Regions from separate parts of the Homo sapiens genome. Here regions 2, 3, 4, 5, 6 and 7 are each linked to region 1. Evidence: fine-mapped expression QTL. A gene starts in region 1. Each other region holds a variant in brackets. All regions are shown on one strand. Distances are between the middles of the regions.

Region 1 (4,067 bases):
AAATTCATAAAATGTGTGAAGAAATGTAACATGCAAACTATACACAAGATAAAAAGCAGGCAGCAGAAGCTATTTCTAAGATGTCCGAGATGATGTAATCAGCAGACAAGTATTTCAGGGCAGCTATTATAAGTACGTTCATGGGGGTAAAGGAAAATATTCTCATAATGAATTAACTCATGTAGAGTCTCAGCAGAGACATGGAAATTATAAAAAGAGTAAAATAGAAGACAATAAAATAATAAAATAAAAAGAACTTTTAGTTTACAGAGTAGAAACAGAAGACAGCAATATAAACCATCCAATCTGAAGACTGAAACAAGTTTAAAGAAAATGAAAAGAGGCCTAAGAGACCTGTGAAATGATTGAGTCTGAGACAGAGAGGGAGAGACAGAAAAATTAAATATAATACAAAAACAAATAAACAATAGCTGAAAATTTAAAAACTTGGTCAAAACCGCAAATTCTTATATTCAAAAGGTGAACACACTCCAAAACAAAAACAAAAACAAATAAAACCATATCGAGGCCCTACTGTGATTTAGAAAACTGGCAGAGCAAGATTTTCCAGGGAGTTGCTATGATTTCTCATTTTCACTATTTATAATAATGGAAAATATGCACTCCTTAGTTTTCTTCTTGGAGAAAGTCTGACTTGTCAAACACAGATGACTTTTCAGTTTAGTTTTCAAGGTTTAATTTCTTACCTTGGAAATCAATTAAATTTGTTTCTTTAAAATGTCGCAGTAAAATTGCTCCTCCAGACAGATGTCCACGGAGATTCTGTCCTGCTGCGTCCGCCTTTCACAGAACTGAGGTTGTTCCTACACCAGTTTCAGAAGCGTGTAGGCACGCTTTATTACAGTGGCAGCAGCGTCCCTGTGCGAGGTCTAACCCAGGTGTGGGCCCTGCAGCCAGCCCGGGGGTCCAATGGGTCCTCCTATGGAGCACAGGAAGAATCGTGGCAGGCCAGAGATAGACAAAAGGTGGCTTTTAAAAGGGAAGTGTCAGGTTACCAGGGACTGGGTACTTTTACACGCGGACCTTCGGCCCTGCCCATAGAAAGGGGCAGCACTGCGCATCTCTGAAGGAGTGTGGCAAAGGGTGGGGCAATAAGAAGGGTGGGGCAGAAAGGAGTGGCCCCTCAGGAGGAAGGGGCGGGGAGATCCCAGCTACTAGAGGACGCCCGTTCCAATGGCAACTCTGCCAAGGCGCCTATGAGAGCCTCTTGGCTTTTACCTGGTCTGCGAGAAATCAAACTTTGGGCACAAGTCATGAAGCCGACAAGCCCGGGAGACACAGTGTCAGAATTACAAGGTGAGATCAGCCGCCCGGCCAAGCTATCTTCTCGCTAGCAGGTGAGGCCCGTGAACAGCCAAGCTCCCCTTGGCACGGCGGAACCGCAGTGGACGCGTGGAGGGGCTCCGTAGAGGAGGGACCTTTGCTTGGGATGCGGGGAGCTGTAGTCTCTTATCTGCACCCAGCTTGTTAGTTGTACGCCTGCAGGACTACAATCTCAGCACAAAGCAGGATTGTAGGGCGGTGCGGATCCCTGGAGGGAGACAGCGCGGTGCGCTCCTGCCGGCCATGCTGGCTGGGGTGGTGTCTTAGGCGGTTCCAGCCGTTAGTCACAGGGCGGCCGGACTACAATCCCAGCATACAACGGGAGTGGAGGTGGTGACCTTGAGAGAGGGCCTGTGCTGTGCGCGCCTCGCGGGGCATGCTGGGAGCAGTAGCATCTTAGCTGCTTCCGGCCGCTGGTCGCAGGGCTGCGGGACTACAATCTTCGCATGAAATGGAAGAGAGGGTGGTGCGGATAGCTTGAGGAAGGTACGGATACCTTGAGGGAGGTATGGATACGTTGAGGGAGGTACGGATACGTTGAGGGAGGTTACGGATACGTTAAGGGAGGTACAGCAGCGGTGCGCGCCTTGCAGGGCATGCTGAGAGGAACAGTTTTTTAACTGCTTCTGGCTGTTGGTGGCAGAGCTGCGGGACTACAATCCCAGTATGCTACGGGAGTGGGGATGATGCTGGTCCCTTGAGGGGGGGGGGCAGCGCGGTGCCCTCCTGCCGGGCATGCTGGTAATAGTGTCTTAGCTGCTTCCGGCCGTTGGTCGCAGGGCTATGGGACTACAGTCTCAGCATGCGCAGGGTTCAAGGGTGTTGCGCAGCCCCGCAGGGAGGGGCAGGGCGGTGTTGACCTCTGTTTCCAAACCCATGCTGGCTACTGAATCTGTGCCACCCCTGGCTAAGGGGAGTGAGTCCATAGAGGGACTTGAAGGGCAGGTCTGGGCTGGGCAGTGAGGAGAGTATGATACTGCAAAGTGCGCCTCGCCTTTGCCAAAATCGGTCGGGTCTCAGGCTCACCCCACCTCCCGCTGCTCAGTTCCGTTTCCCTCCAGAGCATCAAGCCTCCTCCCGCCCAGGGGGCCTCCTGCTTTCCTAAGCTGCTGTGGAATCGGCCTGAGGTCCCAGACGCTGTCCATTGTGCTGCTGCTCTCTGCTTTCTCCAGCCAGAGTGCCAGTTCATCCGCTTTTGGGAGAACTCCGCCGCCTGGCCTGCCCGCGGAAAAGGTCACAGCTTTGCAGGGGGTGACATGGGCTATGGCTTCCTGGAAATGTCACCCTCACTAGCGCCTTTTAGATAGATGTGAATTTTGAGACATGAGGGAGAGTAATTATTGGTTTACCCAGGAGATGCTAAGAGCAGAGGAGAAAACCCTAATTTCCAGGCATGTGTCCTGAGCCAGGGACAGGCTGGCCAGACCCTAAGCCCCCAGTGCCGCCAGAGAGCAGCCTACTGCCCTGATTTGTGTGGAATCCCCTTCGTGCTGCTGGGCCTTAGCGTCAGGGACAGCCCAGTCAGGTGAAGGTGGGGATGACCCATGGGCTTCTGGAAGTGGGTTGGTGGTCCTGGGAGGGCCAGCCCATCCCCCCTTGGAGAGGGTCTTTGTGCTGAAGGATGCCCACAGAGGCCTGGGTACCAGGAACACTGCTCTAGGCAAGGTGCCTTTCTTCCAGATTTGGCTGAAAGGAAGGAAGACTTGGTCAGCTTTTCCACCCAGCCATCTGGCCCTTACAGGGCTGCTCCCCATGGACCTGGGTTTGTAGAGTCCTCCAGGGCTTTGTGTGGCCCACTAGTTCTGATACTGAGGACACCCCTGCAGGCTGTTAATTTCAGAACAAGGGGTGTGTGCAGACTGGGGCATGGGTGCTGTCAGGGTACCCCAGGCTGCTCCAGGGACGGTACCCCAGTGTTCAACTTGGCTTGGGGCCCCCTGCCTCATGCCCTTACTCCAGGGCTGCTTGGCCTGGGCTTGAGCCATGGTCCAGAACTCAGGTGGCCCCATTGCCACCTAATATAAGGGCCTGTCTCCACAGTGGGTGAGACGCCCCTGGGCACTGGGCTCTTCAGTCATCCAGGGCTATCCACTCCATGGCATGAGTTCCCACATTCAGCTGAACTCTGTCTGGCTCTGGACTGGGGTCCCTCCTGTGCCCTTTCCCTGAATCCTCTCTGGGTCCGAGACACTGATCCTCTTCACTCTCTGGCTTAAGGCTTGTTCTCCTGACCTCCTTGGAGGGGTGCTCAGGATTGAGGACCCCTGCTGTTCTCTGGGGCTGTTGGTACTCGGAGGTGTGGGTGTTGGCTTGCACTGAGAAGTCCAACCCCTTCAGTGCCCTTCAGGGGTCCTTTAAGAGCAGGAGTGATAGGGTGTGGGGGAGTGCCTTAGAGGGGTCTTGCCCTCATCCCCTGCCCTGTCTCTGAGACGTGTCCAGTAAACCTGAGGTCAGCACCTCAGGAATGAAATAATGTCTTTTGCAGCAACTTGAATGAAGCTGGAGGCCATTATTCCAAGTGAAATAACTCAGGAATTAAAAATCAAATGCCATATGTTCTCACTTATAAGTTGGAGCTAAGCCATGCGTATGCAAAGGCATGCGGGGTGACATAATGGACTTTGGAGACTCAGACATGAGGGTGGCAGGTGGATGAAGGATGAAAAAACTACCTGTTGAGTACAATATATACTACTCAGGTGACAAGTGCACTAAAATCTCAG
Region 2 (4,067 bases), 130 kb before region 1:
AGGTTTTGCTAATATTAGACTGCATGGTGTCAGGCAAGAATCTTTTCCATTAGAATGCCTGGGGCTGGCCAATAGACTTTCACATTAGAATGCCTGGAGGCACTCAGGTGTCTCTATCATTAGATTGCCTGAGGTTGGATGCAAGTTTCTCCAATTAAAATGCCTGGATTCGCCCAGGTGTCTCTATAATTGGACTGTCTGGGTTTGGCCAGAATTCTTTCCCATTAGAATACCTGGGGTGGGCTGGGCACGGTGGCTCACACCTGTAATCCCAGAACTTTGGGAGGCCAAGAGGGGTGGATCATGAGTTCAGGAGATGGAGACCCTCCTGGCTAACACAGTGAAACTCCGTCTCTACTAAAAACACAGAAACATTAGCTGGGCATGGTGGCAAGCACCTGTAGTCCCAGTTACTCAGGAGGCTGAGGCAGGAGAATGGAGTGAACCCAGGAAGCAGGGCCTGTAGTGAGCCAAGATCACACCACTGCCCTCCAGCCTGGGGAACAGAACGAAACTCAAAAGAAAAAGAAAAAAAGAAAAAGTAAAAGAAAAAGAACACCTGGTGTCACCTAGGTGTCTGTATCCTTAAACTGCCTGGAATAGGCCAGGAGTCTTTCCCATTAAAATGCCTAGGTTCGGCCAGGAGTTTCTCCAATTAAAATGCCTGGAATCAATAATGTATCTCTATCATTAGACTGCCTGAGGTCGGCCAGGAGTTTCTCCTATTAGAATGCCTAGTGTCAGCTGGCAGTCTCTTCCATGACTGGGATAGCCAAGGTGTCTCTATCATTAGAACGTCTGAGTTGGCTCAGCTGTCTCTATCATTAGAATGCCTGAGGTCAGCCTAAGGTCTCTCCCATTATAGTCTCTGGGGTCGCCCATGTGACTGTATCATTAGATTGCCTGCAGTCAGCCAGTGGTCTCTCCCATTAGAATGTCTGGGGTTGCACTTGGGTTCAGCCAGGTGTCTCTACTTTTAGACTGCCTGGGATAGGCCAGGATTTGTTCCCATTAGAATGCTTGAGTATGCCCAAATGTCTCTATCATTAGAATGCCTGGGTGTTAGAAATGCTCATTCCTTTGTGCTGAAAAGAAGAACTAGTGCTCAAAGAATGTTCTCAGCAAAGCAATTTTACTTTCTGCAGAAAGGGTGCTGTCCATCAGCAATCCTGCCACGAGAGCACAATGAACAAAGAAGGACAAGAATATGTATCCCTTATGCATTGGGTCCTTACTACTGTGTCCTATCTCCATTGGTGGGAGCTGGACCTCACAGTCTAAACTAAACCCGATTGACTAACAACTTAAACTTTCCTAAATAGGTAAAGGTAATGGAGAACAAAAGGAAAAGAGGAAGTTGCTTGCAAAAGAACTTAGAAAAGTAATATTTCCAAATAAGGAAGGGGCATAAGCTGTGAGATGGAACATGCTTGAGCGTGTCTAGAACAAATATCTTGGTTAAAGTACGAAGACATAGAATGTACTTATTCCCTCATGTCCAACAGCTACATAGGATAGGGTTTAATAAAGAGTTCTTAGTATTAAAGCAAGGAGGCTTGAAGGAAGTTAGTTTTTAAAAGAAACTATTATTTCTAACATTTGTTATTTAACAAGAAGGGAAACTTTGAAGAGGAACTTTCCACTTTCCACACTGGGGTTGGTGGAAAGTCTCTTCCATTGGAATGCATGGGGTTTCCCAGGTGTATCTATCATTAGACTGCCTTTGGTCTGCCTTGAGTCTCATCTGTTTGAATGCTTGGGGTCACCGAGGTGTCTCCATCATTAGAGTGCCTGGCCTTGGTCAGGAGTCTCTCCCATTAGAACGCCTGGTGTCAGCTGTGAGTCTCCTATTATGATGCCTGCAATTTCCCAGTGTCTCTATCATTAGACTGCCCAGGGTCAAGCAGAAGTTCCTTCCATTAGAATGCCTGGGTTCTCCCAGGTGTCTCTGTCATTAGGCCACTTGGGGTTGGCTAGGAGTCTCTCCTATGAATATGCCTGAAGCTGCCCATGTGTCTCTATCATTAGTCTGCCTGCGGTCAGACAGGAGTCTCCATATTAGAATTACTGGAGTCAGCCATGTGTCTGTATCATTAGAGTGCCTGCATTCGGCAAGAAATCTTTCTATTTAGAATGCCTGGGGTCAGCCTATTTAGAAATCTTTCTATTTAGAATGCCTGGTCTCTGCCATAATGATGCCTTGGGTCACCCAGGTGTCTCTATCATTAAAATGCCTGTGATCAGCTGGGAGTCTCTCCCGTTAGAATGCCTGGGGTTCCCAGGAAGCAGAGCTTGCAGTGAGCCAAGATCACACCACTGCACTCCAGTCTGGGTGACAGAGCAAGGCTCCATCT[CAAAAAAAAAAAA/C]AAAAAAAAAAAAAAAAAAAGAATGCCTGGAGTTGCCAAGGCATTTCTATTCTTAGACTGCCCAGGGTCTGCCAGGAGTCTCTTTAATTAGAATGCCTGAAGTCAGCCAGGAGTATTTTCACAGATAGCTTGTTTCTAGTTTTTATTGTTTGATATTCTGTTTTTCACTATAGGCCTCAATTGGCTCACAAATATCCCTTTGTAGATTCTACAAAAAAAGTGTTTTCAACCTGGTGAATTGAAAAATAGGTTACATTCTTTGATATGAATCCATAACTTAGCATTTTCACAGATAACTTTTTCTAGTTACTATCATGAAATATTCGGTTTTTCACTGTAGTCCTCAATGGGAAAGAAATGTTGATTAACAGATTCTTAAAAAAGGGTGTTTCCAACCTGTTGAATCAAAACAAAAGTTGAAGTCTGTGAGATGACTCCACATATCTTCAAAACATCATGACAGATAGCCTGTTTTTCATTCTTATCTCTAGATATGACTCCACACATCACAAAACATCCTCACAGATAGCCTGTTTTTCTTTCTTATCACTAGATATTTTGTCTTTCACCATAGGCCTCAATAACCTCGGAAATGTCCCATTGTAGATTCTACAAAAGATTGTTTGAAACCTGGTGAATCAAAACACAGATGTAATACCATGAGCTGTATCCACATATCACAAACCATTTTCACAGATAGTTTGTTTCTACATTTTACCACAGAATATTCGATTTTTCTCTATAGACCTCATTAGGCTAAGAAATGTCTCCTCATAGATTGTGCAAAAACAGCATTTACAAGCTGAAGAATCAAAACAAAGATTGAACTCTGTGAGATAAATCCACACATCCCAAAGTATTTTCAAAGATAGTTTGTTTTAAATTTTTATTGCAGGATATCTGGTTTTTCACTATAGGCCTCAGTGGGCTCAAAACTGTCCCTTTGCAAATTCTACAAAAAGAGTGTTACCAACCTGGTGAATCAAAACACCGGTTGTTTCAGTGAGATGAATCCACAAATCATTAAGGATTTTCACACATAGCTTGTTTCTAGTTTTTACCTTGGGATATTTGGCTTTTTACTATAGGATTTGCTGGGCTCAGAAATGTACCTTCATAGATTCTACAAAACGATTGTTTCCAACTCGTGAATCAAAACACAGGTTCTGTTCATGAGATAAATTCACAGATCATAAAGCATTTTCACAGATATCTTGTTTCAAATTTTTATGGTGAAATGTTTGTTTATTCACTATAGGACTCAATGGGCTCAGAAATGTTTCCTCGTTGAGTCTACAAAAAGATTGTCTTCAACCTGTTGAATCAAAGCAAAGGTTTAACACTTTGAGATGAATCTGCATGTCAAAAGCTTTTTCAAAGATAGATTTTTTTATAGTTTTTATCCCAGGATATTTGGTTTTCCACAATGGGTCTCAATGGGCTCAGAAATGTCCCTTTGCAGATTCTACAAAAAGAGTGTTTCCAAAGTGGCCAATCAAAACATAGGTTTAAATAAGTTAGATAAATCTATATATCACAAAGCATTCTCATAGATAGCTTGTTTATACTTTTATCATGAAATATTTCTTTTTTTACTGTAGGGCTCAATGGGCTGTTTAACAACAGGTCTCTAAGGCCTCAAAAATTTCCCTTAGTAGATTTCACTAAAATCTACTCCCAGCTGTCCCTTAGTAGATTTTA
Region 3 (4,067 bases), 53 kb before region 1:
TATTATTAGAATGCCTAAAGTCTTTTGGGAGTCTCTCTCATTAGAATGCCTAGAGTAGCCCAAGTGTCTTTATCATCACACTGCCTGGGGTTGGTTGGGAGTCTCTTTCATTAGAATGCCTGGGGTGTCCCAGGAGTCTGTATAATTAGACTGACTGGGGTCAGGAAGGAGTCTCTCCCATTAAAATGCCTGGGGTAGACCAAGTGTCTCTATCATTAGACTGCCTAGGTACTGCCAGGAGTATCTCACATTAGAATGCCTGGATTGGACCAGGAGTCTATCCCTAGACTGCCTGAAGTCGAATAATAGTCTCTCACCTTAGAATGACTGAGGTAGCCAGAAGTCTCTCCAATTAGAATGGCTGGGTTCGCCCAGGTATATTTATCATTAGACTGCCTGGATCTTCCTGGAGTCTCTCTCATTAGAATGCCTGGTGTCAGTCAAGAGTCTCTCCCATTTGAATACCTGGGGTCACACAGATGTCTCTATCATTACAATGCCTGGGGTCACCCAGGTGTCTCTATAATTACAATACCTCGGGACGATCGGTAGTCTCTCTTATTAGAATGCCTTCGGTCACCAGGTGTCTCTATCATAATACTGCCTGGGGTCACACAGGAGTATCTCTTATTAGAATGCCTGGGGTTGCCCAGGTGTTTCTATCATTAGACTGCCTGGAGTCAGCTAGAAATCTTCCCCATTAGAGTGCTTGGGGTCACCCATGTGTCTCTACCCATAGACTGCTTGGGTCAGCCAAGAGTCTCTCCCAGGTTTCTCTCTCATTAGACTGCCTGGTGTCAGACAGGAGTCTCTCTCAATCGAATGCCTGGTGTCAACGGAAAGTTTCTCCCATTAGAGTGCCTGGGTTCTCACAGGTGTCTCTATCATTGCAATGCCTGGGTTGCCCATGTGTCCCTATCATTAGAAAGCCTCATGTCTGCCAAGAGTCTCCCGCATTAGAATGCCTGCAATCGCCCAGGTGTCTCTATTATTAGATTTCCTAGGGCTGGCCAGGAATCTATCCCATTAGAATGCCTGGGGTCCCTTAGGTGTCTCTATGCATAGATTGCCTGGTGTAGGCCACGAGTCACTTCCATTAGAATGCCTTGGGCCGGCTAAGTCTCTCCTACTAGAATGCCTCAGGTCACCCAGTGGTCATTTTAATTAGACTGCCTGGGGTCGTCCAAGAGTCGTTATTATTAGAGTGTGTGTGGTCACCCAGAGGTCCCTATCAATGGACTCCCTGGGTTCAGCCAGGAGTCTCTCCCATTAGCATGCCTGGGGCCACCCACCTTTCACTTCAATTAGACTGCCTGTGGTTGGCCAAAAGTCTCTCACATTAGAATGCCTGGGGCCACCCAGGGTTTTCTATCATTAGACTGCATGTGGTCAGCCAAAAGTTTCTCCCATTAAAATTCCTGAGGTCCCCCAAGTGTCTCTATTATTAGACTGCCTGGGTTCGGCTGGGAGTCTCATATTAGAATGCCTACAGTCACCCAAATTTCCCTATCCTTAGACTGCCTGAAGCCAGACAAGAGTTTCTCCCATTAGAATCGCTGGAGCTTGCCAGGAGTCTCTCACATTAGAATG[T/C]CTGGGGTCACTCAGGTGTCTCTATCATTAAAATGATTGGGGTGGCCCACTTGTCCCCATCATTAGATTGTCAGGGTTTGGCCAGGAGTCTGATTAAAATGCCTTGGGTCGCCTGGGAGTCTCTTTTATTAGAAAGCGTGGGGTCGCTTAGGTGTCTCTTATTTAGACTGCCTGGGGTTTCCCAGGTGTCTCTATCATTAGACTGCCTGGGGTTGCACAGGTATCCCTATCACTAGAATGCCTGCGGTGGTCTGAGAGTCTTTCCCATAAGAACACCTGGGGTCACCCAAGTGTCTCTTTCATCACACTGACTGGTGTTGTCTGGGAGTATCTTTCATTAGTGTCTCTAACATTAGATTGCCTGGGGTCGTTGGGGAGTCTCCTCCATTAGAATGACTTGGGTGGCCCAAGTACCTCTATTTTTAGACTGCCTGGGGTGGGCTGAGAGTCTCTCCTATTAGAATGCTTGTGGTCGCCCAGGAGTCTGTATAATTGAGCTTCCTGGGTTCGACCAGGGCTCTCTCCCATTAGAATGCCTGGGGTCGCCCAGGAGTCTCTATCCTTAGACTTTCAGATGTCAGATGAAAGTCTCTTTCATTAGAATGCCTGGGGTCGCCAAAGTGTCTCTATAATTAGACTGTCTGGGTTCGGCCAGGTATGTATTTCATTAGAATGCCTGGGGTCGCTTAGGTGGTCTGTATGCATAGACTGCTTGGAGTCAAACAGGAGTCACTCCCAATAGAATGCTTTCGGTCAGCCGAAAGACTCTCCTATTAGAATGCCTGGTGGCACCCAGGGGTCTTTAATTATACTGCCTGAGGTCGTCCAGGCGTCTTTCTCATTACAATGCCTAGGGTCACCCAGATGCCTCTATCATTAGACTGTCTGTGGTCATCCAGGAGTCTCTTTCACTGAAATGCCTGCGGTTGCCTATTTGTCTCTATCATTAGACTGCCTGGGGTCAGCCTAGCAATAAATGAAAGTTTAAGCTATACTAAACCCAGGGTTGGTTAATTTCATGCCAGCCACTGCGGCCATTAGTCTCTCCCATTAGAATGCCTGGGGTCACCCAAGTTTCTCTATAATTAGACTGTGTGAGGTCAGCCAGGAATCTCTCCCATTAGAATGCCTCCAGTCACCCAGGTGTCTCTATCAACAGACTGCTTGGGTCAGCCAGGAGTGTCTCCCATTAGAATGCCTTGGGTCAGCTAGGATTCTCTCTTATTTGAATGCCTGGGGTCGCCCAGGTGTCTTTTTAATAAAACTGCATGCAGTTGGCCAGGAGTCTCTCCCATTAGAATGCCAGGAGTTGCCCATTTGTCACTTTAATTAGACTGCGTTTAGTCGGCCAGGAGTCTCTCCTATTAAAATGCCTGTGGTAGTCCAGGTATGTCTATCATTAGACTGCCTGTGCTTAGCCAGGAATCTCTCCATTAGAATGTCTGAGGTTAGCCCTGAGTCTGTAACATTAGAATACCTGTGGTTGCCCAGGTGTCTCTATCATTGAAATGCTTGGGGTTGCCCACTTGTCTCTATCATTAGAATGCCTGGGGTGGGCCAGAAATCTCTCTCATTAGAATGCCTGTTGTCACCCAAGTCTCTATCCATAGACTGCTTGGGTTGGCCAGGAGTCTCTCCCATTAAAATGTCTGGGTCTCCCAGTTTCTCTATCATTAGACTGTCTAGGGATGACTGGAAGTCTCTCCCATTAGAATACCTGGGTTGCCCACGTGTCTCTATTGTTAGACTGCCTGGCATCAGACAGGAGTCTCTCATTAGAATGTCTGATGTCAACCAAAATTCTCTCCCATTAGAATGCCTGGGGTCTCACTGGTGCCTAAATAATTACAATGCCTGGGGTCTCCCAGGTTTCTCTATCATTAGAATGCCTCGGGTTGGCAGAGAGTCTCTTGCATTAGAATGCCTGCAATCGCCCAGTTGTCTCTATCCATAGACTGCCTGGGGTCAACCGTAAGACTCTCCCATTATAATGCCTGGAATCGCCCAGGTGTCCCTATGCATAGACCGTCTGGGGTCGGCCAGGAATCTCTCTTATTAGAATGCCTGAGGTCGCCCAGGTGTCTCTATCAATAAACTGCCAGAAGTCTCCCCCATTAGAATGTCTGAGATTGGGTAGGAGTCTCTCTTATTTTAATGCCTGGGGTCACCCAGGTGTCTATTTAATTAGACTGACTGGGGTCGGCCAGGGGTCTCTCCCATTAGAATGCCTGGGATCACCCAGGTATCTCTATCATTAGACTGCCTATGCTTAGCCAGTTGTCTCTCCATTAGAATGCCAGAGGTTGGCCAGGAGCCTCTCACATTAGAATTCCTATGGTCACTCAGGTGTCTTTATCCTGAAAATGATTGGAGCCACCCACTTGTCTCTATCATTTGAATGCCAAGGTTTGGCCTCGAGTCTCTCCTATTAGAATGCCTGGGGCTGCCTAGGTGAGTCTGTCATTATACTGTCTGGG
Region 4 (4,067 bases), 300 kb before region 1:
TGAGAAACTGCTTTGAGATGTGGGCATTCGTCTCACAACGTTAAAACTTTCTTTTGATTGTGTAGTTTGTAAACATTGTTTTTGTAGAATCTACGAAGGGATATTTGGGAGCACATAAAAGCATATGGTGAAAAAGGAAATATCTTCAGATAAAAACTAGACAGAAGCTTTCTGAGAAACCATTTTGTGATGTGACATTCTTCTCATAGAGTTAAACCATTCTTTTGGTTGAGTAGTTTGGAAACTGTTTTTTTTAGAATCTGTGAAGGGATATTTGGGAGCCAATTGAGGCCAAGGGTGAAAAAGGAAATATCTTCACATAAAAACTAGAAAGAAGTTTTCTGAGAAACTGCTTTGTGATGTGTCCATTCATCTCACAGAATTAAAACTTCCTTTTGAATGGGCAGTTTGGAAACACAGTTTTTGATGTATCTGTGAAGGGATATTTGGGAGCGCATCAAGATCTATGGTTAAAAAGGAAATATCTTGGGATAAAAAGTAGAAAGAAGCTTTCTCAGAAACTGCTTCGTGATGTCTGCATTCTTCTCACAGAGTTAAACCTTTCTTTTGATTGAGCAGTTTGGAAACACTGTTTTTGTAGAATCTGTGAAGTGATATTTGGGAGGGCATTCAGGCCTATGGTGAAAAAGGAAATATCTTCAGATAAAAACTAGAAAGAAACATTCTGAGAAACTGCTTTCTGACGAGGGCATTCATCTCACACAGTTAAATCTTTCTTTTGGATGAGTAGTTTGGAAACACTGTTTTGGTAGGATCTGAGAAGAGATACTTGGGAGCACATTGAGGCCTATGCTGAAAAAGGAAATATCTTCATATAAAAACTAAAAAGAAACTCTCTAGGAAACTGCTTTGTGATTTGTGCATTCATCTCACAGAGTTAAATCTTTCTTTTCATTTTGCAGTTTGGCAACACTGTTTTTATTGAATCTGTGAAGGGACAATTGGGAGCACATTGAGGTCTATGGTCAAAAAGGAAATATCTTCAGATAAATACTAGAAAGAAGTTTTCTCAGAATTGGCTTTGTGATGTGGGCATTCTCCTGACAGAGTTAAACTTTTCTTTTGATTTAGCAGTTTGGCATCAACGTTTTTGTAGAATCTGAGAAGGGGTGTTTGGGAGCACTTTGAGGCCTACGGTTAAAAAGGGAACATCTTCAGATAAAAACTAGAAAGAAGATTTCTGGGAAACTGCTTTATGATTTCTACCTTCATCTCTCAGAGTTAAACCTTTCTTTTGATTGAGCAGTTTGGAAACACTCTTTAGGTAGGATCTGCAAAGAGATATTTCAGAGCGAGTTGAGGCCTATGGTGAAAAAGGAAATATATTCAGAAAAAAACTAGAAGGAAGTTTCTCAGAAACCGCTTTGTGTTCAGGGCGTTCTTCTCACAGAGTTAACCTTTATTTTGATTGAGCAGTCTGGAAACACTGTTTTTGTAGAATCTACAAAGGGATATATTGTAGTGCTTTGTGGTCTACAGTAAAAAAAGAAATATCTTCAGATAAAAACTAGAAAGAAGGTTTCTGAGAAACTGCTCTGTGAAGTGTACATTCTTCTCACACAGTTAAACATTTCCATTGATCAAGCAGCCTGGAAAGATTGTTTTGGTAGAATCTATGAAGGGATATATGGGAGTGTATTGAGGCCTATGGTGAAAAAGAAAATATCTTCAGAGAAAAACTAGAAAGAAGCTTTCTGAGAAACTGCTTTGTGATGTGTGCATTCATCTCACAGAGTGAAACCTCTCTTTTGACTGAGCAGTTTGGCAACAGTGTGATTGTAGAATCTGAGAAGGGATGTTTGGGAGTGCTTCAGGGCCTATGGTGTAAAAGGAAGTATCTTCAGATAAAAACTAGAAAGAAGCTTTCTGGGAAACTGCTTTGTGATGTGTTCATTCATCCCACAGAGATAAACCTTTCTTTTGATTGTGCAGTTTGGCAACACTGTTTTTGTTGCATCTGTAAAAGGACACTTGGAAGTGCATTGGGGTCTATGGTGAAAAAGGTAATATCTTCAGATAAATATGAAGCAGTGTGGGAAATCTATTTTTATGGAATCTGTGAAGGGACATTTGGGAGTGTATTGAGTCCTATGGTGAAAAAGGAAATATCTTCAGATAAAAACTAGAAAGATGCTTTCTCAAAAACAGCTTTGTGATGGGTGCATTCTTCTCACAGAGTTAAATCTTTCTTTTCATTGAGCAGTTTGGAAACACTGTTTTGGTAGACTCTGCGAAGGGATATTTTGTAGAGCTTTGAGGCCTATGGTGAAAAAGGAGATAACTTCAGATTAAATTAGAAAGAAGCTTTCTCAGAAACAGTTTTGTGATGTGTGCATTCTTCTCACAGAGTTAAATATTTCCTTTCATTAAGCAGTCTGGAAACACTGT[TC/T]TTTTTTTTTAAATCTAGGAAGGGATATATGGGAGCACATTGAGGTCAGTGGTGAAAAAGGAAATATCTTCTGAGAAAAACTAGGCAGAAGCTTCCTGAGAAACTGCTTTGTGATGAGTGCATTCGTCTCACAGAATTCATACTTTCTTTTGATTGAGCAGTTTGGCAACACTCTTTTTGTAGAATCTGAGAAGGTATATTTGGGAGTGGTTTGAGGCCTATGGTGAAAAAGGAAATATCTTCAGAGGAAAACTAGAAAGAAGCTTTCTCAGTAACCACCTTCAGATGTGTGCATTCATCTCAGAGAGTTAAACCATTCTTTGAGCAGTTTGGAAACACTGTTTTCGTAGGATGTATGAAGGGATATTTGGGAGCGCTTACAGGCCTATGGTGAAAAATAAATATCTTCAGATAAAAACTAGAAAGAAGCTTTGTGAGAAACACTACTTTGTGATGAGTAAGTTCATCTCACAGAGTTAAAATTTTCTTTTGATTTTTCAGTCTGACAACGGTGTTTTTAAAAATCTGAGAAGGGATATTTGGGAGTGCTTTGAGGCCTATGGTGAAGAACAATATATCTTCAGATATAAAATAGAAAGAAACATTCTGGGAATCTGCTTTGTGATGGGTGCATTCTTCTCACAGAGTTAAACCTTTCTTTTGATTGAGCAGTTTGGAAACACTGTTTTTTTAAAATATAGAAAGGGATAAATTGGAGCACACTGAGGCCAGTGGTGAAAAAGGAAATATCTTCAGATAGAAACTAGAAAGCAGCTTTCTGAGAAAATGGTTTGTGATGTGTGCATTCATCTCATAGAGTTTAACCATACTTTTCATTGAGAAGTTTGAAAACACTGTTTTGGTAGAATCTGCAAAGGGATATTAAGGATCGCTTATAGGCCTCTGGTGAAAAATTAAATATCATCAGATAAAAACTAGAAAGATGCTTTCTGATAAACTGGTTTGTGACGAGTGCACTCATCTCAAAGAGTTAAATGTTTCGTTTGATTGAGCAGTTTGGAAACAGGGACTTTGGAGAATCTAGAAGGCATATTTGGAAGCACTTTGAGGCCTAAGGTCAAAAAAGAAATATCTTCAGATAAAAACTAGAAAGAAGCTTTCTGGGAATCTGTTTGTGATGTGTGCATTTATGTCACAGTGTTAAAACTGTCTTTTGATTCAGCAGGATGGAAAGACTGTTTTGGAAGAATCTGCGAGACACATTTGGGATCACTTTGAGACATCTGTTGAGAAAGGAAATATCTTCAGGTAAAAACTAGAAAGAAGCTTTCTGGGAAACTGCTTTGTGATGTGCATATTCTTCCCACAGAGTAAAACCTTTCTTTGATTGAACAGTCTGGAAACACTGTTTTTGTAGAGTCTATGCAGGGATATACGGGTGCACATTGAGGACTATGGTGAAAAAGGAAATATCTTCCAAGAAATACTAGACAGAAAATTTCTGAGAAACTGCTTTGTGATGTGTGCATTCATCTCACAGAGTTAAACCTTTCTTTTGATTGAGGAGTTTCCAAACCCCGTTTTGGTACTATCTGTGAAGGGATATTTGGGAGGGCATTCAGACCTATGGTGAAAAAGGGAATACCTTCACATAAATAGTAGAAAGAAGCTTTCTCAGAAAACGCTTTGTAATGTA
Region 5 (4,067 bases), 350 kb before region 1:
TTGAAACTTTCTTTTGATTGAATAGTTCAGAAAGTGTCTTTTTGTAGAATCTGCAAAGGGATATTTTTGAGCCCTTTGACGTCTATGGCAAAAAAGGAAATATCTTCACATAAAAATTAGACAAAATATTTCTCAGAAACTGCTTCATGACATAGGCATTCATCTCACAGAGGTAAACGTTTCTTTTCATTGAGCAGATTGGAAACTCTCTTCTTCTGGATTCTGCAAAGAGATATTTGCGAGTGCTCTAAGGCCTATGGTGAAAAAGGAAATATCTTCACATGAAAACTAGACAGAAGCTTTCTGAGAAACTACTTTGTGATGTGTACATTCATCTCAAATAGTTAAAGCTTTCTTTTGATTGAGCAGTTTGGAAACACTCTTTTTATAGAATCTGCAAAGGTATATTTGTGAGCACTTTGAAGCCTATTATGAAAGAGGAAATATCTTCAAATGAAAACTAGGCAGAAGCTTTCTGAGAACCTTCTTTGTGATGTGTGAATTCATCTCACATAGTTGAATTTTTCTTTTGATTGAGCAATTTCGAAAAAGTGTTTTTGTAGCATCTGCAAATGGATATTTGTGAGCCCTTTGAGGCCGATGGTGAAAAAGGAAATATCTAAACATAAGAACTAGGCAGAAGGTTTCTGAGAGACTGCTTCTTGATGTGGGCATTCATGTCACAGAGGTAGACATTACTTTTCATTGAGCAGATTGGAAACCCTCTTCTTGTAGAATCCGCAAAGTTAGATTTGGGACTGCTTTCAGGCCTGTGGCGAAAAAGGAAATATCATCACATAAAAACCAGACAGAAGCTTTCACAAAAACTTCTTTGTGATGTATGCATTAATCTCAAAGTGTTGAAACTTCCTATTGATTGAGCACTGTGGAAACAGTTATTTTGTAGAATCTGCAAAGGGATATTTGTGAGCTCTTTGAGGCCTATGGTGAAAAAGGAAATATCTTCACTTGAAAACTAGACAGAAGATGTCTAAGAGACTGCTTCGTGATGTGGGCATTCATCTCACAGAGGTAAACATTTCTTTTCAACTCTCTTCTTGTAGTATCCACAAAGGGATATTTGTGACCGTTCTGAGGCCTGTTTTGAAAAAGGATATATCTTCACATAAAAACTAGGCAGGAGGTTTCTAAGAGACTGCTTTTTGATGCGTGCATCCACCTCACACAGGTAAATGTCTCTTATCATTGAGTAGATTGGAAACTCTTTTCTTACAGAATCTGCAAAGGGATATTTTTGAGCACTTGGAGGCCTATGGTGAAAAAGTAAATATCTTCACATAAAAACTACAAAGAATCTTTCTGAGAAACTTCCTTGTGATGTGTGCATTCAGCTCACAGAGTTGAACCTTTCTTTTGATTGAGCAGATTGGAAACAGTCATAACAGTCCTTGTAGAATCTGCAAAGGAATAGTTGTGAGCGCTTTGAGGCCTATGGTGAAATAGAAAATATCTTCACATAAAAACTAGACAGAAGATTCCTGAAAAACTCCTTTGAGCTGTGTGCATTTATCCCACAGAGTTGAACCTTTCTTTCCGTTGAGCAGTTTGGAAACAGTCTTTTTGTAGAATCTGCAAGGGGATATTTGTGAGCGCTTGAGACCTATGGTGAAAAAGACCTATCTTCACATAAAAACCAGAAAGAAGGATTCTGAGAGACTGCTTCCTGATGTGAGCATTCGTCTCACAGAGGTAAACATTTCTTTTCACTGAGCAGATTGGAAACTCTCTTCTTGTAGTATCCACAAAGGGATATTTGTGACCACTTTGAGGCCTGTGGTGAAAAGGGAAATATATTCCCATAAAAACTAGACAGAAGATTTCTGAGAAACTTCATTGTGATGCCTGCATTCATCTCACAGAGTTGAAACTTTCTTTTGATTAATCAGTTTGGAAACAGTCTTTTTGCAGAAGCTGTAAAGGGATA[T/G]TTGTGAGTGGTTTGAGTCCTATGGTGAAAAAGGAAAAATCTTCACATAAAAACCAGACAGAAGATTTCTGAGAAACTTCTTTGTGATGTGGCATTTATCCCACAGAGGTGAACTTTTCTTTCAATTAAGCAGTTTGGAAACAGCCTTTTTGTTGGATCTGCAAAGGGATATTTGTGAGCCCTTTGAGGCCATTGCTGAAAAGGGAAATAACTTCATAGGAAAACTAGACAGAATCTTTCTGAGAAACTGCTTTGTGATGTGTGCATTCATCTGACAGAGTGGAAACTTTCTTTTGGTTGAGCAGTTTGGAAACATTATTTTTGTAGAATCTGCAAAGGGATATTTGTGTGTGGTTTGATGCCTATGGTGAAAAATAAAATATCTTCACATAAAAACTAGAAAGGAGCTTTCTGAGAAACTTCTTTGTGACGTGCGCATTCATCTCACAGAGTTGAAACTTTCTATGGATTGAGCAGTTTGAAAACAGTCTTTGTGTAGAATCTACAAAGCGATATTTGTGAGCTTGTTGAGACCTATGGTGAAAAAGGAAATATCTTCATATAAAAACCAGACAGAAGCTTTCTGAGATACTTCCTTGAGATGTGTGCATTCATCTCACTAAATAGAACCTTGAGTAGTTTGTAAACAGTCTTTTTGTAGAATCTGCAATCCGATATTTGTGAGCCCTTGGTGGCCTATGGTGAAAAAGGATATACATTCACATAAAAACTAGGCAGAAGGCTTCTGAGAATCTGATTTGTGATGTGTGCATTCATCTGACAGAGGTAAATGTTTCTTTTCATTGATCAGATGGGAAACTCTCTTCTTGTAGAATCTGCAATGAGATACTTGTGAGTGCTTTGAAGCCTATGGTGAAAAAGTAAATATCTTCACATAAAAAGTAGACAAAAGCTTTTTGAGAAACTTCTTTGTGATATGTGCTTTCATCTCACACAGTTCAAACTTTCTTTTGATTGAGCAGTTTGGAAAAAATCTTTTTGTAGAAAATGCAAAGGGATATTTGTGAGTGGCTTGAGGCCTATGGATGGAAAGGAAATATCTTCACATAAATACTAGACAGAAGCTTTCTGAGAAACTTCTTTGTGATGTGCACATTCATCTCACAGACGTAAACCTTTCTTTTCATTGTGGAGATTGTAAACTCTGTTCTTGCAGTATCTGGAAAGGGATATTTCTGAGCGCTTTGAGGCCTGTGGTGAAAAAGGAAATATCTTCACATAAAAAGTAGACAGAAGCTTTCTGAGAAACTTCTTTGTGAAATGTGCATACATCTCACAGAGTTGAGCCTTTCCTTTGACTGAGCAGTTTGGAAACAGTCTTTTTGTAGAATCTTCAAAGGGATATTTGCGAACACTTTGAGGTCTATAGTGAAAAAGGAAATATCTTCACATAAAAACTAGAGAGAAGTATACTGAGAAACTGCTTTGAAATCTGTGCATTCATCTCACAGAGGTTAACCTTTCTTTACATTGAGCAGATTGGATATTATGTTCTTATAGAATCTGAAAAGGCATATTTTTGAGTGCTTTGAGTCGTATGGTTAAAAAGGAAATATCTTCACATAAAAACTAGACAGAAACTTTCTGAGAAACTTCTTTGTGATATGTGCACTCATCTCACAGAGTTGAACCTTTCTGAGTAGTTTGAAAATAGTCTTATTGTCGAATCTGCAAAGGGATACTTCTGAGTGCTTGGAGGGCTGTGGTGAAAAAGGAAATATCTTCATATAAAAGCTAGAAAGAAGTTTTCTGTAAAACTTTTTTGTGATTTGTGCATTCATCTCACAGAGGTGAACAATTCCCTTGAGGGAAAAGTTTGGAAGCAGTCTTTTTGGAGAATCTGCATAGGGATATTTGTCTGCCCTTTGAGGTCTGTTTTGAAAAAGTATATATCTTCACATGAAACCTCGACAAAAGCTTTCTGAAAAACTGCTTTGCGATGTGTGCATTCATCTCACAGAGTTGAACTTTTCTTTTTATTGACTAGTTTGGAAACAGTTTTTTTTCGTGGAATCTGCAAAGGGATATTTGTGAGTACTTTGAGGCCTAGGGTGAAAAAGGAAATATCTTCACATGAAAACCAGACAGAAACTTTCTGAGA
Region 6 (4,067 bases), 76 kb after region 1:
TTTCTATTTTAATTAGAAAACTATAGAGTATGCTTAGACCAGTAGCAAATGGCTCTTCCTTGCTGTGGTTTGGGGGACATTGGCAGGTGGTGAGTATTATTCTATTCAGGCCTCTTGCCTAACTTGGTTTTAGAAGGCATGAGGTTCTTTATGGTTCTATGTCTGTGGGTAAGGCTGCAGCTGCTGATTATGCTAATTCTTGCTTCCTTGCAAATAGCCAACTCCTTATTTTGTGCATTGCCAGCTATCAACAGAGACATTTTAGGAATAATTTTCATGTTAAAGGCAGGCTTTGTTGTAGTGTCCTACTGTGAACTGTCCCAGCATTAGACCCATCAGAGGTTTGTGAAGAGAGCTCTGATGTTAGAACAGTGAGCACAGTACTCTGCCAATTTGCCCATTACCTCTTCTGTCTCCCCTAGCAGGAACTACTGTCTGGCTTTCTCAAGAGGAACATGAATTGCTGCTCTAATGGACTGTTCATGGATTTGAGATCTTATTTTAGTTAGGGAGGTTGAGACTTTCATGGCTTCATAATTGATGCTTGAGAAAACATTCTTTCTAATTGGAAATTCTAACAATCTCCATAAAGCCTGTTTTGCTGTCCCTAAGGCTTTGAATGCATTCTTGTTTGGTAATCAGAATGAAAACAAACTTTTCAAAGCAAATAATTGTGTTTTTTTGTTGTTGTTTGTTTGTTTTTTGAGACGGAGTTTTGCTCTTCTTGCCCAGGCTGGAGTCCAATGGTGCGATATATGCTCACTGCAACCTCTGCCTCCTGGGTTCAAGTGATTCTCCTACCTCAGCCCCCTGAGTAGCTGGGATTACAGGTATGCACCACTATACCCAGCTAATTTTGTGTTTTTTAGTAGAGACGGGGTTTCTCCATGTTGGTTAGGCTGGTCTTGAACTCCTGACCTCAGGTGACCTGCCCACCTTGGCCTCCCAAAGTGCTGGGATTACAGGCATGAGCCACTGTGCCCAGCCAATAATGGTGTTCTTGACCTTTATTTTGGGTTATATTCTATTTATATGTTATAATCTAAATTTAATTTTATTTGATTTTGTGGAAGAAGTAGAGAAAATTAGTTTGCTTTTTAATTGATATTACTTTAAATGAAAAAGGAAACAAGTTAGTAAATCTAAGAGCATTTAATTTTCACTTTTTTTTCTTACCATTGTCTCTGCTTAGCCATCTTTTTAGTTATTAGATGAATTAGGATACTTTTTGCATGAGAAATACTTTGACACTCATGTATATCAATGAAAGTGTGCCTCTGCTTTTGATTTTGGTTTACTACTTAAATTACTCTTGAATTATGCTGACAAGATCCATCTCAAGTTTCTCAAAGCATAATGTGAGGAGAGAAAAAATTCTACATGCTTGGGGTTTCCTTGAAGGAAACCACAAAATCCCTGATGCCTCAATGAACATGCAGACCTCCCAGGCTGCCTAAGCATAGAATGTTAATTCTGAACACCTAATTTCTTCCAGATCTTTCCCTCCCCGCTTACGTGGGGCAGATATCAACATATAGTAATTTATTTAAAGAAGTATCTGCTCACTGCTATCTTTGGGTCAATGCTTGTGCTAAGCTCTGAGATTACAGGGATAGGTTAACTAGATTCCTCCTTAAATGAATTAAGACTTAGAGCAAAAAAATACAAATAAGTAATAAT[T/C]GCCCTTAACTTTCTTTTGGGTGTGGTGAAAGGCAGCTGGGAAAGATCTTTAGTATCAGTGAGGGCATAGGTAAGCCTTCATTGCACACAGCATGTTGAGCAAGGGTCCCAAATGGGAATAAATGGGTGAAGAAAATTTCAGGAAAGAAAACAGATCATAGTTTAGAGAACCTGAATATTAGACTAACCTGGATTCAAATCCTGCCAGCACTGCACATTAGCTGTGTAACCAAACAAAGATCTTTACCATTCAACATTTGCTGGATACAAGGTTAATATACAAAATGTAATCACTTTCCTATATATCAGCAATAGATACCTGAAATTTGAAATTAAAACACCATAACATTTATATTAGCATCCCCCAAAATAAAATACTTGGCTAAAAATCTAACAAAGTATGTACAAGATTTATATAAGGAGAGCCATAAAACTATGATTTAAAAAATCAAATAATTGAAGAAATTGATAGATACTACATGTTTATGGATAGAAAGATTCAATATTGTCAAGACATTGGTTATTTCTAATTTGACATATAGACTTAACACAATTAAAATAAAAATCCCAACAAATTATTTCATGGAAATCAACAAACTGATGCTAAAGTTTACATGAAAAGGCAAAAGACCCAGGATAACCAACATTAGAAAAAATGAAAAGCCAGAGGACTGACACTACCCATGTTCAAGACTTACTATAAAACTACAGTAACCAAAAGAGTATGGTATTCATAAAAGAAGATAAAAAGAGATTAATGCAACAGGTTATAGAGCACAGGTATAGACCCACATAAATATAATCAAGGAGCAAAGGTAATACAATGAGGAAAAGATGGTCTTTTCAGTAAATAGCACTCAAACAACAGGATATACATATGAAAAGAATCTACAAACAGGCTTTACACTGCTTAAAATTAACTCAAAATGGATCATAAGACTAAATGTAAAATGCAAAACTGTAAAACTTCTGGGAAATAGCATAGGAAAAGAGATCTACACTACCTTGGGCATGGTGATGGCTTGTTAGATACAACACCATAGGCATGACCCATGAAAGAAACAATTGATAAGCTGGCCTTCATTATAATTTAAATCTTCTGTTCTGCCAAAGGTACTGTCAGTAGAAGGATAACACAAGCTATAGACTGGGAGAAACTATTTGCAAAAGATATATCTGATACAGTACTTCTATCTAATATATTTAAAAAATTAAAACTCAACAATAGGTAAAAAAGCTTAATTAAAAAACACAGGCAAAAGACCTGAACAGATACTTTATCAAAAATATATGTAGATGCCAAATAAGTACAAGAAAAGATGCCCCATATAATATGATATTAGAAGATTTCAAAATAAAATATCAATAAGATATGATTATACACAAATTACAATGGTCCAGATTCAGAACACTGACAACACCAAATGCTGGTAAGCACGTGGAGCAACAAGAACTCTCTTTCATTGCTGGTGACACAAAATGGTGCAACCACTTTTGAAGACAGTTTGACAGTTTCTTACAAAACCACACATAGTCTTATAAAATTCAGCAGTTGTGCCCCTTAGTACTTACCCAAATGTGTTAAAAACCTTATGCCCACCCAAAAACCTATGCACAGATATTTATAGAAGCATAATTACCAAAACTTGAATGATGAATGAACATTATATCTAGACAATTAAATCTTATTCAGTTATTTAAAAAAAGAACTATCAAGACATGAAAAAACATGGAAGAAACAAATACCTGTTGCTAAATGAAAGAAGCCAATCTGAAAATGCTACATACTGTATGATTTCAACTATATGATATTCTGGAGAAGACAAAACTATAGAAACAGTGAAACAATCAGTGATTTCCAGGGGTTGAGAGGAGGGAGGGATGAATAGGTGAAGCACAAACAATTTTTAAGACAGTACAAATATTGTAATGTGTACTATACATATACTGTATTATAGTATCATACTGCATTATATTCTGTATAATAATATAATAGTGGATACATGTCGTTATACATTTGTCATTAGAATGTACAACATGAAGAGTAAATTCTAATGCAAATTATGGACTTTGGGTAATAGTAAAATGTAAATATTGATTCATTAATTGTAACAAGACTGCCATGCTGGAGGGAAAAGCTGTGCATCTGTGAGGGAAGGGAGGATGTGGGACATATCTGTACTTTCCGTTCAATTTTGCTGTAAACTTAAATGGTCCTAAAAAATAAAATCTATTTGAAAGGGGGAAAAAGACATTTGAAATTTTAAACACATAATGAAAATGCCCAAATTGTGGTGATAAAATTTTCTGTATCTTGATTTTATTAATTTTAATATTCTGGTTGTAATATTGTACTAGAATTTTAAATTACTTTGTCCCAGATTTTT
Region 7 (4,067 bases), 51 kb after region 1:
TATTAAGGCTGCTGATGCCAGGGTCATGGCTTGGGACCTGGGGGAGAGTTGAAGTCCTAAGCAGGTCACCATAGGGGTGGAAAGCAGTGCTTTGGAGGGGGAGACCCTATGGCCTTTATTAGTAAGGAAATTGAGAAGGGTGGCAGCATGAGTTTGGGAGATTTTTAAGGAGGGGCTACAGAGGAGGAGGTCATCTACATATTGAAGAAGGCAGCTGGAGGAAAGATTTAAGGAGGTGAAGTCTTGGGCTAGGGCTTGCCCAAAGAAATGAGGGCTATCCCTGAAGACTTGAGGGAGGACAGTCCATGTGAGTTGTTGTGACTGGAGAGTGTTGGGGTCAGTCTGGGTGAAAGCAAAGAGGTTTTGGGAATCAGGGTGTAGGGGAATGGTGAAGAAGGCATCTTTCAGGTCAATTGTTGTATAGTGGGTGGTGTTGGAGGGGACAAGAGAGAAAAGTGTATAGAAGTTAGGGACTACAGGATGAATAGGGAGGACAGCCTGATTGATAGCTCGGTGGTCCTGGATGAGTGGTATGAGCCATCAGATGTTTTAATAGGGAGGATGGGGGTGTTATACGGAGAGTGTGTTGGTCTAAGAAGACTGCATGAGCAGAGCTTGTTTATGATGGGTTGTAAGCCCTTTTGGTATGTTAGGGAAATGGGGAATTGGGGAACATTGGGAAATTTAGAGGGTTGTTTTAACTGGATTTTGATGGGGTCCTAGTGAGCAGCTATGGAAGGGGTGGTGGTGTCCACACTACTGGATTAATGAGGGAGGCGGCTAGCGGGTGCTGGGGAGGAGGGATCAGAGGCTGGACTAGCAGAGAGGAGCAGGAGAGACTCTGGTTGAGGGGGACAGAAAAAGTTGATAGAAGCCTTGAATTTGGCTAAAATGTCTCGGCCTAGGATGGGGGTGGGGCAATGAGGCATGATAAGGAAGGAGTGTGAAAAAACAGTATTAAATAGGGAACAAGTAAGGGATTCAGTAGTGCATGGACATGAGAAGAGTACATCAACCCCCACAACAGAGACCTGGGAAGGGTAAATGGGTCCTAAAAATACAAGTAAAGCCGATTAGGTGGCTCCACTGTTGATTAAAAAAGAGATCGGTTTACCTGCTATTAGCAGAGTTACCCTGGGCTCCAATGCAGTGACGGCAGATGGGGCCGGGGGCCCTGGGCTCTGTCAGTCTCCAGCAGCCAGGCCAAGGAGGTGTGGGAGTGTGAGTGACTCTTCACTCTTTGATTTGCCAGGGCTTTGAGGAACCGGCCTGTTAGTCTACTTGTTAAGAGGACAATCAGACTTCCATTGACTGGTTTGTTGGCAGGCTGGGCAAGGAGTTTTTGGTATTCGTGGGTTAGGGCATGTTCAGGCCTAATGGCCTTCTTTGCCACACTTAAAACAGGGCCCAGGAGGGTCACTGCTATTGGGTCTTTTGAGCCTCTGGGCAGCCTGGGTAGATAGCTGCTGCTAGGAGCTGGTATTTAGCCTGATCTTGTTGGGCTTTATTTAATTTATTTTGCCCATCTCTGTTGTTGAAAACCTTGAAGGCCAGGATAAGAAGGTCTTGTAGAGGGTTTTGATGGCCATCTTCTACCTTTTTGAGCTTGCGCTGTATGTCAGGAGCAGACTGAGAGATGAAATGGGTATTAAGAACAATAGTTCCTTCCTGGGAGGTGGGGTCAACACTGGTGTATTTTTGGAGGGCCTCTGTAAAGCGGGAAAGAAATTTGGCAAGATTTTCATTGGCCCTTTGGGAGATTTTTTTTTTTGAGTTTTTTAAAGTTTACGGCCTTGTGGGCAGCTT[C/T]GTTAAGGCCTGCAATAAGGAAGTGATCATGTGGTTATGAGATGCCAGCCGGGCTCTGTGGGTTGGTACTCCCAGGAGGATTTTTCCCGGGGAAATGCAGCAGCCTTTATGGGCTTAGGAGGGTCTTGCCAATGAAGATCGTCAGCATGTGCCTGAGCTGCAAGCTGCACTCTTTTCTTTGTTTTTCTGGGAGGAAAGTAGAAGAAAGGATAATATAGAGATCATGCCAAGTGGGTTTATAAGATTGAGTGAGGTATTTGAACTTTTTGATGTAAGTGTCAGGATTGGAGGAAAAGGACCTGAGACCGTTCTTAATTTGGGAAAGGTTGGAGAGGGAGAAGGGAATGTGGATGTGAACGAATCCTTTAGCCTCAGCCACCTCTCGGAGGGGAAGTAAGGGGGCCGACTGTTGGGCATGCTGAGTCCGAGAGCAGGTATGAAGTGGAGATGGGGAGCAATCAGAATCAGAAGTTGGGTGGTTAGGAGAGAGGAGGGGAAAGAGGTAAGGCAGGAGCGGGAGCATATGGTGGAGGATTGTGATGATTTGGGGGAGGATTATGGTGTTGTCAGAGAGAAGGAAAGTTGGCAGGGTCAAAGAAGGAGGAATTGTCACTAGGAGTGGTGGAGGGGGGTGTTTGAGGATGGGTCGGGTTTGGAGCAGGCGAGGAGGATTTGGAAAGTAGAGCAGGACTGACAGAGGGAGGGACGGCTACAGAGGGCAAAAAAAAGCCTGAACATAAGGGATCTCTGACCACTTTCCATTGCGATGGCAGAAGTTGTCTAGGTCCCTGAGAATGTTGAAATTGAAAGTGCCATTTTCAGGCCATTGGGAGCCATTGTCTAGTTTATATTTTGGCCAGGGAGTGTTACAATAAAAGATGAGGTTTTTTTGGCCAAATTTTGGAATGGAGGATAAGGGCATTAATGTTACAGAGGAGATACCCAAGGGGCGGGGGGGGGATGTCTTTGAGGGAGTGGATTGGGAGGCTCCCTTAGTGAAATGAGAAAGGGAGGGGTAGAGACAGGAGACTTGGCTAGAATGGTGGGAGAAGGCATCCCTTGTCCCACGGTTCAAGTCGGAGAAGTGCGATAATCCTCCGTTCAGGCATCCCCGAAAGGGAGATACCAAGGGCCTAGAGGCCGGGAGGAGGAAACCCTTGGCCCAGTGCTAGGTCTTTCAGGAAGGAAAGAGTAGACAAGGGTTCCAGACCGAAGGCAAAAGTCTCCTTTACTCACCCCTGAGGTGGTCCTGGTGTCGGATGTGTTCACCAAGCGATGGAAAGGCTGTATGAGATCCTTGGGTCTCTAGCAGGTTCTGGAAGGGGTAGTTCGGCCGGGGGAAGAATGGAGGGAAGGAGAAAGGGAGAAAGGGAGGCCAAACTCTACCACCTTCCTGAGTTTCAGCACCAGAAATGTAAGGTCAGCTGAGAGAAAGGATGAGGAGACCCAAAGTCAGACAAGCAAGCTTTATTGAGCTGCTTGGCTGCTCCATCACAGTTAGAGGAGGCAGCCCCACTTACAGACTATAGCAGGGTTTTACAGGGCCAGAACCAGGTCAGGGTCGGGGAGCTGAGTCGGGGCAGGAGAACTGGGTCCCAGTAGAGGAGCTGAGTTGGGGATGCAGGTGTCTCAACTGCATCCTGGAGATGTTTTTTGCCAGCTTTGTTATGCGAGGTTAAGAGATATGTTAACCGCATCCTATAACTGTCTGGACAAACAGATACTGGAGGGCTCAGTGAAGGCAGGGGTTTGTCTTTTGCCCTGGGGTAGCTGTGTGGAGAGCACAAGGGAGTGTATTGTGAGGCCTGTGGGAGGGGAAGGGTCTGGTCGGGGTGACCCTAACAGGGAGTTTTTTCAGACCCCCAATTAAACTTATTTAATCTTAAATGGTCCTGTTAAGAATTCCCTCATCATCTTGTCATGCTCCAAGGCAGGCCCAGGAAAGTCCTAGTGAAAACTCTTGGTGGACTTTTGCGACATTCCACCCTTTGCAAGAGTGCACTGGTTCTCTCAGCTTTTAATATTTAACTTAGCCACTTGGTCAGTACTGAAACGGTTGTTGCAGAGGCCCGCCTTAGTTAGTGAGACCTGGCCTGCCACACACACAATGGGGCAATCTCGGCTTGCTGCAACTTCTGCATCCTGGGCTCAAGTGATTCTCCTGACTGGGCCCCTCCAGTAGCTGGAACTACAGGTGCCCGCCACTGCCCCCAGCTGGAGCTACACTAACTAATGTATAGGAATAGATTGAAATAGAGATT

The links.
Region 2: its variant is fine-mapped to the expression of LINC00662 in whole blood (INTERVAL, PIP above 0.99).
Region 3: its variant is fine-mapped to the expression of LINC00662 in cerebellar hemisphere (GTEx, PIP above 0.99). The same link has a PIP of 0.9 or more in kidney cortex, nucleus accumbens, stomach, sun-exposed skin and vagina.
Region 4: its variant is fine-mapped to the expression of LINC00662 in whole blood (INTERVAL, PIP above 0.99).
Region 5: its variant is fine-mapped to the expression of LINC00662 in whole blood (TOPMed, PIP above 0.99).
Region 6: its variant is fine-mapped to the expression of LINC00662 in visceral fat (GTEx, PIP above 0.99). The same link has a PIP of 0.9 or more in ileum and thyroid.
Region 7: its variant is fine-mapped to the expression of LINC00662 in tibial nerve (GTEx, PIP above 0.99). The same link has a PIP of 0.9 or more in adrenal gland, cerebellum, fibroblasts, gastroesophageal junction, ovary and subcutaneous fat.

The regions. Positions count from the first base shown.
Region 1 is chr19:27,792,293-27,796,359 of GRCh38, forward strand. LINC00662 (long intergenic non-protein coding RNA 662) reads right to left here and starts at 1,648. Exons shown (of 3, transcript NR_027301.1): 1 at 1,240-1,648; 2 at 708-940. LINC02987 (long intergenic non-protein coding RNA 2987) reads left to right here and starts at 1,139. Exons shown (of 7, transcript NR_146733.1): 1 at 1,139-1,317. RefSeq lists enhancers at 1,381-1,860, 3,027-3,808.
Region 2 is chr19:27,658,256-27,662,322 of GRCh38, forward strand. No RefSeq gene overlaps it. Among named protein-coding and RNA genes, the nearest start is that of LINC02987, 130 kb to the right of the region's middle. The variant CAAAAAAAAAAAA/C (reference allele first, on the strand shown) is at 2,355.
Region 3 is chr19:27,739,252-27,743,318 of GRCh38, forward strand. No RefSeq gene overlaps it. Among named protein-coding and RNA genes, the nearest start is that of LINC02987, 52 kb to the right of the region's middle. The variant T/C (reference allele first, on the strand shown) is at 1,591.
Region 4 is chr19:27,489,988-27,494,054 of GRCh38, forward strand. No RefSeq gene overlaps it. Among named protein-coding and RNA genes, the nearest start is that of LINC02987, 300 kb to the right of the region's middle. The variant TC/T (reference allele first, on the strand shown) is at 2,410.
Region 5 is chr19:27,443,252-27,447,318 of GRCh38, forward strand. No RefSeq gene overlaps it. Among named protein-coding and RNA genes, the nearest start is that of LINC02987, 350 kb to the right of the region's middle. The variant T/G (reference allele first, on the strand shown) is at 1,946.
Region 6 is chr19:27,868,049-27,872,115 of GRCh38, forward strand. All of the region lies in intron 1 of LINC02987 (long intergenic non-protein coding RNA 2987), which reads left to right. Among named protein-coding and RNA genes, the nearest start is that of LINC00662, 76 kb to the left of the region's middle. The variant T/C (reference allele first, on the strand shown) is at 1,681.
Region 7 is chr19:27,843,284-27,847,350 of GRCh38, forward strand. All of the region lies in intron 1 of LINC02987 (long intergenic non-protein coding RNA 2987), which reads left to right. Among named protein-coding and RNA genes, the nearest start is that of LINC00662, 51 kb to the left of the region's middle. The variant C/T (reference allele first, on the strand shown) is at 1,807.